2 separate regions of the Homo sapiens genome follow, and region 2 is linked to region 1. The links come from fine-mapping of genetic effects on gene expression. A gene starts in region 1. The other region holds a variant in brackets. All regions are shown on one strand. Distances are from middle to middle. Region 1 holds the start of PAK6 (p21 (RAC1) activated kinase 6). Region 2 overlaps BUB1B-PAK6 (BUB1B-PAK6 readthrough).

What was found. PIP is the estimated chance that this variant, and not a neighbour inherited with it, causes the effect. A credible set is the group of variants that fine-mapping cannot tell apart.
Region 2: its variant is the best candidate, but not a certain one, in a credible set for the expression of PAK6 in skeletal muscle (GTEx, PIP 0.73).

The regions. Positions count from the first base shown.
Region 1 is chr15:40,236,448-40,241,816 of GRCh38, forward strand. PAK6 (p21 (RAC1) activated kinase 6) reads left to right here and starts at 2,616. Exons shown (of 11, transcript NM_001395430.1): 1 at 2,616-3,355; 2 at 4,152-4,234. The region is part of intron 1 of BUB1B-PAK6 (BUB1B-PAK6 readthrough); the gene reads left to right. LOC107984763 (a long non-coding RNA gene) reads right to left here and starts at 3,254. Exons shown (of 3, transcript XR_001751506.2): 1 at 3,038-3,254.
Region 2 is chr15:40,260,864-40,266,232 of GRCh38, forward strand. BUB1B-PAK6 (BUB1B-PAK6 readthrough) reads left to right here. Exons shown (of 10, transcript NM_001128629.3): 3 at 3,918-4,126; 4 at 4,979-5,369. The coding sequence starts at 3,923. PAK6 (p21 (RAC1) activated kinase 6) reads left to right here. Exons shown (of 11, transcript NM_001395430.1): 4 at 3,918-4,126; 5 at 4,979-5,369. The coding sequence starts at 3,923. Among named protein-coding and RNA genes, the nearest start is that of PAK6-AS1, 11 kb to the left of the region's middle. The variant A/C (reference allele first, on the strand shown) is at 2,348.

The sequences.
Region 1 (5,369 bases):
GCCCACCACCACACCCAGCTAATTTTTGTATTCTTAGTAGAGACGGGGTTTCGCCATGTTGGCCAGGCTGGTCTCGAACTCCTGACGTCAGGTGATCCACCCACCTCGGCCTCCCAAAGTGCTGGGATTACAGGCGTGTGCCACTGCGTCTGGCCTATTATTAGTTTTAAAAACATACATTCCTTTATTTTTACTTTTGTATTGTTTAAATACAACAGTACATGTTCACTGAAACAATGCAAGAGTGTAAAAAGTCCAAAGTGAAAGACCCCTCTCACCACCACTCCTATTTCCAAGGATAACCACATTGACAGTTTGCGGTTTAAACATACAGATATAGAAATATCTTTAAATAAAAAAACTTATATGAGATTATGCCATCTCATTTTCAAGTTAACATTGATAAACCTGGTCTTTTTGCTCAACTATCGTGGTCATCCTTCCTCATACATACGTATGTACATGCATACCGGTACACACATAGCTGGTACATACATACCGACTGACAAAACTCATTCATTTTAAGGCTGCAGATACTTCATTGCATGGGGATGTACCATCCTGTATAGATCTGTCACCCAATTAATCTGCCCAATTGATGCACATTTTGGTGGCTTCAAATTCTTTGCAGTTACAAACAGTGCTACCATGAATATTCTTATACAAATATCTTCAGGCCGATGTGCAACTATTTCTTAACTTGGATTCCTAGAAGTGCATTTGCTGGATCAAGTACATACACATTTTGAAATTTTGGTCAAGACTGTAAAATTGCCCTCCAAGAAGACTGTACCAATTCACTCTCCCACCTGCCATTTTTTTTTCACTGTATAATGACAGGGAGTGGTATATCCCTTTTGTTTTAGTTTGCATTTCCTGGATCATTCCTTAGTGAGACAGAGCAGAAGTGGATTATTTATAAGTTTACACACAAAATTACATTGAGATACAAAAAGAAGAAAAATACAGAGTTCCTCTCCAAAAGGAACTGATAACCTAGTTAAAGGGAAAATGTTTCATATTGACCACAAATTGAACTTTTTTTTTCTTTTGAGACAGAGTCTCGCTCTGTCGCGCAGGCTGAAGTGCAGTGGCACAATCTTGGCTCACTGCAACCTCCGCCTCCCGGGTTCAAGCAATTCTCCTGCCTCAGCCTCCCAAGTAGCTGGGATTACAGGCATGTGCCACCACGCCCAGCTAATTTTTGTATTTTTAGTGGAATGAGGTTTCACCATGTTGGCCAGGCTGGTCTCAATCTCTTGACCTCATGGTCCACCCGCCTCAGCCTCTCAAAGTGCTGGGATTACAGGCGTGAGCCACTGTGCCTGGCCACAAATTGAAATTCTTATGTTTAATGCCATGACATCTAACACTGCGTTCAATCAAAATGTCTACGCATGCAGCTTGAGACCTTTGCACAGAAGGTGCCTAGGGTCATGATTTGGGAAGATTAATCTGCCATCAGTGGAGGGGTGGATAAAAACTAATGTTTATTGGGATCAAGATGAGCAGTCTCTGTGCCAGAAACTTTATTCCTTTAATTTCCACAGCCCTGTGAGGCAGGTGAAATCATCCCCATTTTATGGATGAGGAAATTGAAGTTCAATTGGTTCAATAACATGCCAAAGGTCACTCAACTGATGAACAGTGGAGCTGAGATGCGGAAGACTGAAGACTCACAGCCTGGACTTTTAACCAAACACCACATGGCTTCGCTACAGAAGAAAGTTAGAAAGTTTTCAAAAATAAAATGTAGAGCCAAGTGCCACCTTGGATATAAGGGACTGGGGGACGGGAAGAGGCAAGAACTCCCAGGCTTCCCTCTGGCTGTCAATAGCTAGTGGGTCCTGGCAGTGGGAGCTGGGCCATCAGAGGTGGCGCCTGAAGTGGGGCAGGCACAAAATGGGTTTTCGGGCAAGCATTTGCCCAGGTGATGGTCAAAGCCACAGAAAAAAGGTGTTTTGATGGAGTGGTGGCTGAGTGTGGGGAGAGATGAGCAGGGGACCAAGCCTGGAGCTTGGGCAGCCCACGATTGGACACTAGGAGAAGAAAAGAAGCCAGTGGAGGAGACACTGAGGCTAGGGATGGGGAGGGCACTGTGGAAGGCTGGGCTCCACCTGGCGCTCCGGGGAGCTGGCAGGGGGGCACATCAAGGAGCTCAAGCTGCCTCACCAGCAAATGCCTCTGTTTCTGACCAGGGGCAATGAAATAAAGGGACCCGGTTGAGTAACTGGTTTCTGGTCCCTGCCAGCCCAGGAAGCCAGCACCCACCCTGCCTTACATCCCATGTGCCACTCTCAGCCTTCGAAGCAAAACCAGCTGAGACCAGCACCTGCCAGATCTGAATGCGCAGCTCCAAGTTCTGGGGGGTGGGGGTGGGGGTGAGCCAAGGAGGTCTGGCTTCTCTAGGGCAAGGGTAGGAAGGACAGCAGGGAGGCTCACCCTGAGCCCGGCAGGCAGCCCTTCCTCCTCCTCCCCTTCAGCAAAGAAAGGCAGATAAAAACGTGTTTTTATAAATAGCTCCAGCCCCAGCTGATTTGTAAATTCAGTGGGTTTTTTGTGTCAATGACATCACCTTCCTCCCCATGGCAACCCCCGACGATATCAAAATTGCCAAGCAACGTTGGAGCAGCTCGGCGCCCCAAACGAGCAGGTCGATGCCTGAGGATTTAATGGAGAAATCCCAAAGTGAGCCGGGGCGCGCGGTGGAGGAGGGGCGCGCCGCAGCCGGGGCCGCTGGGCCCTGATGGGCGGGAGCGGGGTGGAGCGGCCTCGCCTGCCAGGCAGCCCTGGGCGCGGGGCTCGGCGGCCACACTCTGGAGACAGCCACGGTCCAGGCAGGTGGGGGAGGGCGCTGCTCCCGTCCTGATGTGCCAGGAGCCGCCAGCAGCCATCCAGGTGACTAAGCCGGCCCACTAGCACTGAGTCACCGCCCGCCTCGAGCTGTTCTTGCTTCTCCTTTGCATCTGATTATTTTGGGAGCTGGAAACTTGGAGCTGCACCTGAGTCCCGCCCCTTCTAGCTCTCCCCTCCCTACCTTGGGCTCCAGGAAGATGGGACTTGCTGTGAGTCTGCTGCCACCCCCTAAAGATATGGAAGACGCTGTGGGGGCCAGAAGTGCCCGGGGGGCTGTGGCAGCAGGCAGAGTGCAATAGCAGATATGGTGGTCAGGCTGCCTGTGTGTGTCCTCTGGAGGTGTTGGGACAGAAGGGCAGTCTTGTCCGAGCTGACTGGAGTCCTCCCGGGCTGGCTCTGAACTCATCTCCCACGGGGATGTTTCGGTAAAGGAGTGGCTTCTGGGGTCGGAGTGGCATTTGGAGAGCGAGGCTGGATTGGCTTAGGCTGGCCTGGGCAGGTAGGTGGCTCTGTGTTGGGTGTGGACCCACGTGTGTGTGAGTGCGAGAGTGTGTAAGCCAGTGTGTGTGCCGTCCCCCTGCTGGGGACAGCAGCTGGGTCCAGCAGAGAGCTGGCTGGGGGCTTGACAGGAGTTTATCCTAACTGATGCTGGGTGGGCGCAGGCCCTGAGATGGGCGTCAGGGAGAGGGGACGCCAGACACACGGCCTGAGCAGGGTGAGGAGCAGCTGCCAGCCCCGGCAGGCCCAGGCCCTGTCTGGGTGCACAGGACAGAGACACAGCAAGATGCCCAGGTAGGAAGCCGTCCGGAGGGGCTGGCCAGGGTGAGAGCCCATCACTGGGGGGCTGGACAGCCCATCAGCTGCCCCTTCATTCTGGCAGGCCTGGGTACCAAGGAAACAGCTTCCTACCAAGAACCATGTCACTCTCTTATGCAGGGCCAGTCAGCACCCATGTGCGTCTCTGCTGAGCTCACAGGGACACATTCAGTGAGAAGGGTGCTGGCCAGGGTACGGCTTCCCCATGATCAGGACCCAGCGGGTGCCACCCTCAAGCCCCTGGTCCCCACAGGGCATGCCCCAGTGTGTGTCAGGAGGAGGGGGGAGGTCCCTTCTCCCCCACACAGCTGGCAGCTTTGCGGGCACCAGTGAGTAAGCTGCCAGAGGGAGGGAGGCTGTGTGCCCACAGTGGCAGGACAATACCAACCAGGAGCCTTCAAGAGAAGAGGCTGGGTGAGAAAAGCACTGAGGTTTTCTTTTCCTTTTTTTTTTTTTTTTTTTTTCTATTTTGCCTGAAGGGAGTGCCGCTTCCTGGGCTAGAGACAAGCACCAGCCTGCAGTGGAGAACGCAGGACCCCGCTGCCCAGAAGGAGCAGCCACGGTAAGGTCCCCACTGCCGCTGCGTGCTCCGGATTCCTGGGCTAGGGACGGGGGTGCCAAGGTGTCCAGGCTGCCTCCCACCTGGGACAGGGAGGCTAACTCCACAGCTGTGGGTTCCTGGGTCAAGGGGCTCCACTCCCCACCCGGCCTGCCACCTTCTTTCCAGATTGATTGTGAAACAGTCCAATCCCAGCTGGTCTCTGGCTCCCTAGCTAGAGGGAGAGGTGCTTGTTTCTACTCTTCCTGCCCCAGCTGGGCCAAGCCAGTGCCACCGGGACACCCCTATCCAAGGCCCCTCTCACTTTACCACCTCTGGGACATTTCCCTTGTGTATTCATTCCACAAATATTTAGGGAGCACTGCTGGGTCCCAGGCTCCAAGTCACACCCTTTGGCTGGGTTTGACCTGGCACAGATTCTGACTCTGAAACTCAGCATCAGGGCAGGTTCAGGGAGCTGCCTGGCCAAGCACGGTCACTCCTCACAGGCCTTGGTCTCCCCACCCCTGCTGCAGGGTGGATGACCTGGTCAGCTTTGGGGACATCGGGCCCAGTGAGCTCGGGTTTATAAAGCACTGGGCCCCACCGGGAAGCAAGGCTAACGTCTTGTGGTCTCCAGTTATCCTTTCCCTGGCATTGTACACCAAGAGGTTTGTGCCGTTCTGCCTGGGGTCTTCCTGAGGCTGGTTCTGGTGGGAACTGGGCTGCAGGAGGAGAGGATGAGCTTAGGAGCCGTGTGGCCCCCAGGCCTGGTGGGCCTGGGACTCAGCCCCACGGGAGCTCATCTAGCTGGGGTTGAGGCCTTTGGGGCAAGCAAGGAGTCCCCTCTGCAGGCAGGCTTCCCTGGCGGTTGTCCTGGCCCAGGCTTGGAGGTGGCACCTGGGAGCCCTAGTGACAGAGCGCCTGGTCAGGGAAGGGTCGGCACCAGAGGCAAGCCCTTCTGGGAGCAGCTGATTTGGATGGAAGCTCTGTGCACCTGAGAGGGGGAGTGTGGGGACTGCACGGCCTCTCCAGTGCCCCGAGGACAAACTGATGCTTTGTGAGTGCTCTGGGCCCTCCCGGACTTGCCAGACACAGGGAGGGTGCAGTGGGTGGGGTCTCCAGCCAAGGAAAGCCCGCTCTGTGCACAACTCCTAAG
Region 2 (5,369 bases), 24 kb after region 1:
TAATGTAAAATGATATCTTTTTAAAAATTTCATTTTTTTTTTTGAGACAGAGTCTCGCTCTGTCGCCCAGGCTGGAATGCAGTGGCCTGATCTCAGCTCACTGCAAGCTCCGCCTCCCAGGTTCACGCCATTCTCCTGCCTCAGCCTCCTGAGTAGCTGGGACTACAGGTGCCCACCACCACACCCGGCTAATGTTTTGTAGTTTTAGTAGAGACGGGGTTTCACCGTGTTAGCCAGGATGATCTCTATCTCCTGACCTCGTGATTCGCCCACCTCGGCCTCCCAAAGTGCTGGGATTACAGGCGTGAGCCACCGCGCCTGGCCCTTTTTAAAAATTTCATGTTGTTACTGGTATGTAGAAATCCAGTTGATTTTTTAAAATATTGACCTTGAGCCTGGGCACGGTGGCTCATGCCTGTAATCCCAGCACTTTGGGAGGCTGAGGCGGGTGGATCATGAAGTCAAGAGATCGAGACCATCCTGGCCAACATGGTGAAACCCCATCTCTACTAAAAATACAAAAATTAGCTGGGCGTGATGGCGTGCGCCTGTAGTCCCAGCTACTCAGTAGGCTAAGGCAGGAGAATCACTTGAACCCGGGAGGCAGAGATTGCAGTGAGCTGAGATCACACCACTGCACTCCAGCCCGGGCAAGACAGCGAGACTCCATCTCAAAAAATATATATATATATATTGACCTTGAATCAGGGACCTTCTAAATTCACTCCCTTAATCCCAGTTTTATGTAGATTCTCCCGCATTTTCTACTTACACAGTTATGTTGTCCCACACAGTGTTGGCCTCACCACATTTCAGATGAGTCCTAGCTGCCTCCCTTTAGGTGGTTGATTGGTTGATTTTCCAGACCTAAGTGATGGCCTCTGGTTTCTAAAGCTCTACTCCCTAGCCCCCAAAGCCTGAGCTCAGCTGATTGCTTCTGCCAACTCCCACCCTCACCATCACCACTCCTGGCCCTGGGACACCCTCTGGGCTGTCCTTCTTTCTTCTCCAGCCTCCCTGCTGCCTCTGGGAAGAACTTGTTCCGGAATGGCTCACTATTAGAATGGACTCAAGAGAGGCTCCCAGAGTCAGAGACCATTTGCTAAAGATGCTCTCCCTGTGCATCCCCACAGCAAAAGCTGAGCGCTTGGGTGGGGCAGGGGAGTTGGGGAGAGGGCTGTTCTGGGGTGGGTGGTGGGGGGCGGATTCACCAGCTCTTCTTCAGCTGCAGTCTGTGTCCCTGCACCTCCAGAAGATTTCACAGAGCTAGGGAGGAGGGCGAAACAGGCAGCTCAACTAATCCAGGGATAGCAGGTCTATCCAAGGGACTGGGGGAATAGACCTGCTGAATAAAGACTCTTCTGTAGCAAAAGGCAAAGGCTGTAATCCCAGCACTTTGGGAGACCAAGGCAGGTGGATCATTTGAAGTCAGAAGTTCGAGACCAGCCTGGCCAACATGGTGAAATCCCGTCTCTACTAAAAATACAAAAATTAGCCGGGTATGTTGGTGGGTGCCTGTAATCTCAGCTATTCAGGAGGCTGAGGCAAGAGAATCACTTGAACCCGGGAGGTGGAGGTTGCAGTGAGCCCAGATGGTGCCACTACACTCCAGTCTGGGCGACAGGGCGGCAAGACTCCTTCTCAAAAACAACAACAACAACAACAAACAACAACAAAAAAGGCAAAGGCCAAAAGGAGGAGGACAAATTTTACCAAACCATGATGTATATATGGCGAGGTCCCCAGGTCCCAGACCCCTGACATCAGGCATGACCCCTTTGACTGGTAAGTCTGAGCAGAAAGTGGTTTGGTGTTACTCCCAGACTTGTATCTGCCCAAGTGCCAGTGTCTGGAGGGCCTGAGCTTCAAGACAGGGATTCAAAGAGAGGTGACATCACAAGAGAAACAACCGTCATGTATGGGGACTCTGCTTACTTCACACACCCTAAACCCTATGAGCTGTCTTTCATTAACCCCCCTGGCTCAGATCATTTCAGTTATTTGTTCAAAATCTCTCCAAATTATTAGTGGGAGACTCCCTACAACTCATCTGCAACTCACACAGGTTGTTTTATTCCAAAGGGCTTGGTCTGTAAGGGTCCTGTACATGTGGCTCTACCTCTAGGGGGTGTTCGGTGGATCCCGAACCTCAAGACCCAGAAGCATGGCTGACATTGAGATGTGACGTGGGCTCTGATTGAGTCACGCATGGTGAATTCCTAGTGGGGAACCACTGGCTGTCCAGGGTCCCTGCCTTTCTGCCAGCTGCCTCCCAGATCTGCGACCTCCTTCAGAACCTGCCAAAATGACTAGGAAAATGCTGTTTCCATAGCAAGAGCCAAAAGAG[A/C]ACATGACGGCCCTGCACTCCAGATCTTCGGGCGGATGAGTAATCCAAGCTTTCAGTTCAAGAATCATGTTTCAGTTTCTTGAAGCCTGGAAGTGACCTTTTCAGATACATAAGAACCCAGTGAGCTGTTCTGAGCCTCTTCAGATCCAAAAGCATTCAAGAGGCAGCCCTGGCCCTGTCTGCCATCAACATGTGATCCCAGGTCCGGGATCCCCTGAAGGCGAAACTAGAGCAACCCTTTGGAAGTGTCCCTCCCCTTCCCAGGCCCCCAGTTCCCCACTCTCAGATCTACCCATGCTATCCATTGCAAGCCTGTGTCACTTCTGTGTATGCAGCTCAGCACGACCTTAGGCAAAGCCAGAATCAGCAAGGCACGGGACACAGGCTTGATTGCAGGTTAAGTGTTTTATTGTTTGTTTTTTGAGACAGAGTCTCATTCTGTTGCCCAGGCTGGAGTGCAGTGGGGCAATCTCAGCTCACTGCAGCCTCAGCCTCCTGGGTTCAAGCGATTCTCCTCCCTCAACCCCATGGGTATCCGGGACTACAGGCACGTGCCACCAGGCCCGGCTAATTTCTTTGTATTTTTAGTCAAGACAGGTTTTCACCATGTTGGCCAAGCTGGTCTCAAACTCCTGACCTCAGGTGATCCACCCGCCTCGGCCTCCCAGAGTACTAGGATTACAGGCATGAACCACCATGCCCGGCCCAGGTGATGTTTTACATAGAGCTCCAATACCAGAGAGAAGAGTGTCAAGGGGAGGTGGTGCTCTCTGCCTTCTCTGGAGAGCTTTACCCCTAAGTTAGCTGCCCCTCACCCACCCCAGGCTATCCTCTTGGCTCAGGGCCTTTCTGGAATTGAGGTAAAGCACATGGTAACCATGAAGGCCCTTTGGGGGCTCCCTGATACATAATAGTCCCACACCGGGCAGCATGTCTGTGATCAGCTGGTTGGCTTTTTATTAACGTATCATATTAACAGGTTCAACCATCCTGGGACAAAGCTGAGTTGTAATAAAAAAAAAAAGCCAACAAAAAAATAACTTTAATATACTGTTGGATTCAATTCGATAGTTTTAAGATTTTCATAGTTACGTTCCTAAATGATATTGAGTCAAATTTTCCTTTTCTTGCACTCTCCTTATCTGGTTTTAAGAATCAAGGTCATACTCGTTTCATAAAACAAGCTTGCTAACTTTCCTCCCTCTTTCCCCATTTTTAAAATTCGTTGACAGACAGTGGAATGATACTTGTAATGGGCTTTGGATTTTATAAAAACACACCCCCAGAGTCTGCCTGCTCCATAGGGGACTTGGCACAGGCAAGAAGACACCTCTTTTCCTTGTTTATAGTCTGCACTGGCTTATTTATGGCACGTTTGTTGTTTCTGGGACTGTTCTGCTGGGAGCCAGCCATTTCCCTGAGGAAGCAGAGATGGAGGTGGAGGGAAGCCCTAGGCTTCTAGGGGAGCTGTGCTGGGGGAGGGGAGGGAGCCCTGAACCTGGTGCCCCAGGCCCTGCTGCAGCCACCCCTCTTTCCCGGGAGGGAGCTCAACCTTACTCTGCACTTACAGGCACCATGTTCCGCAAGAAAAAGAAGAAACGCCCTGAGATCTCAGCGCCACAGAACTTCCAGCACCGTGTCCACACCTCCTTCGACCCCAAAGAAGGCAAGTTTGTGGGCCTCCCCCCACAATGGCAGAACATCCTGGACACACTGCGGCGCCCCAAGCCCGTGGTGGACCCTTCGCGAATCACACGGGTGCAGCTCCAGCCCATGAAGGTAAGAGGGGCCGGCAGGGATGAGGTTCAGCCTCTCCCAGTACTCAGACAACCATGCCTGGCTAAACCTCAGAAAGGCCCCTGGAGGAACCACCTACTTCACAGCTATCAGTTAATCAGCTGTTTTAACTCCCTGCCTGTCAGCCTGCCATTCTCTCCCTGGGTAAGCCAGGGCGAAGGAGGCTGGGGAGACCCTCTCTGCAGGGTGGTGGGGTTGCCAGATTCAGCACATGAAAATGTGAGATGCTCAATTGCATTTGTATTTCAGATGACAACGAATAGTCTTTTAGGACGTGTCCCATTCAATATTTGGACCTGCAGCCCCATAGGGACTGAGGGCTCTCCCAGACCAGGAGAATTTTAGTTGTGAGGGTCACGACTAGTAGACCCAAGAGCCTGGTAGAAGGTGGGGTCAGGGGCCCTATCAGGGTTTGGAGGCTGCGAAGCCAGTGTGTGTGGAGGAGCCCCCGGCCTGGTGTCTCTTCCTCAGAGGGCTGGGCACATCTCTCCCAGCCACCCGTGGAGCTAGAGAATGGAGCCCCGCCCCCTGAGCTCCAGCTCCCTGGCCCAGCCGACCACACCCCTGGGCATGCTGGATGCAGCCCCATGGCACTCACCATCTGCTCTGCTGACGCTGGGCCTTCTCCCCGCATCCCTGCATCCAGCACAGGCGGGACCCACGGTGGGCCCTGATAAATTATGGAAAAATTAATGGGTGGATGACACAGCAGGGAAGGTCCTTAGGTGGTCCTCCCCAGGGCCCCCAGGGACATTCTCTGACCCTGATCTCCCAGCCACCCCTCCCTGCCACAATTGGGCAGCTCCCACACACTCTTTTCTCTTCCCCCTACAGACAGTGGTGCGGGGCAGCGCGATGCCTGTGGATGGCTACATCTCGGGGCTGCTCAACGACATCCAGAAGTTGTCAGTCATCAGCTCCAACACCCTGCGTGGCCGCAGCCCCACCAGCCGGCGGCGGGCACAGTCCCTGGGGCTGCTGGGGGATGAGCACTGGGCCACCGACCCAGACATGTACCTCCAGAGCCCCCAGTCTGAGCGCACTGACCCCCACGGCCTCTACCTCAGCTGCAACGGGGGCACACCAGCAGGCCACAAGCAGATGCCGTGGCCCGAGCCACAGAGCCCACGGGTCCTGCCCAATGGGCTGGCTGCAAAGGCACAGTCCCTGGGCCCCGCCGAGTTTCAGGGTGCCTCGCAGCGCTGTCTGCAGCTGGGTGCCTGCC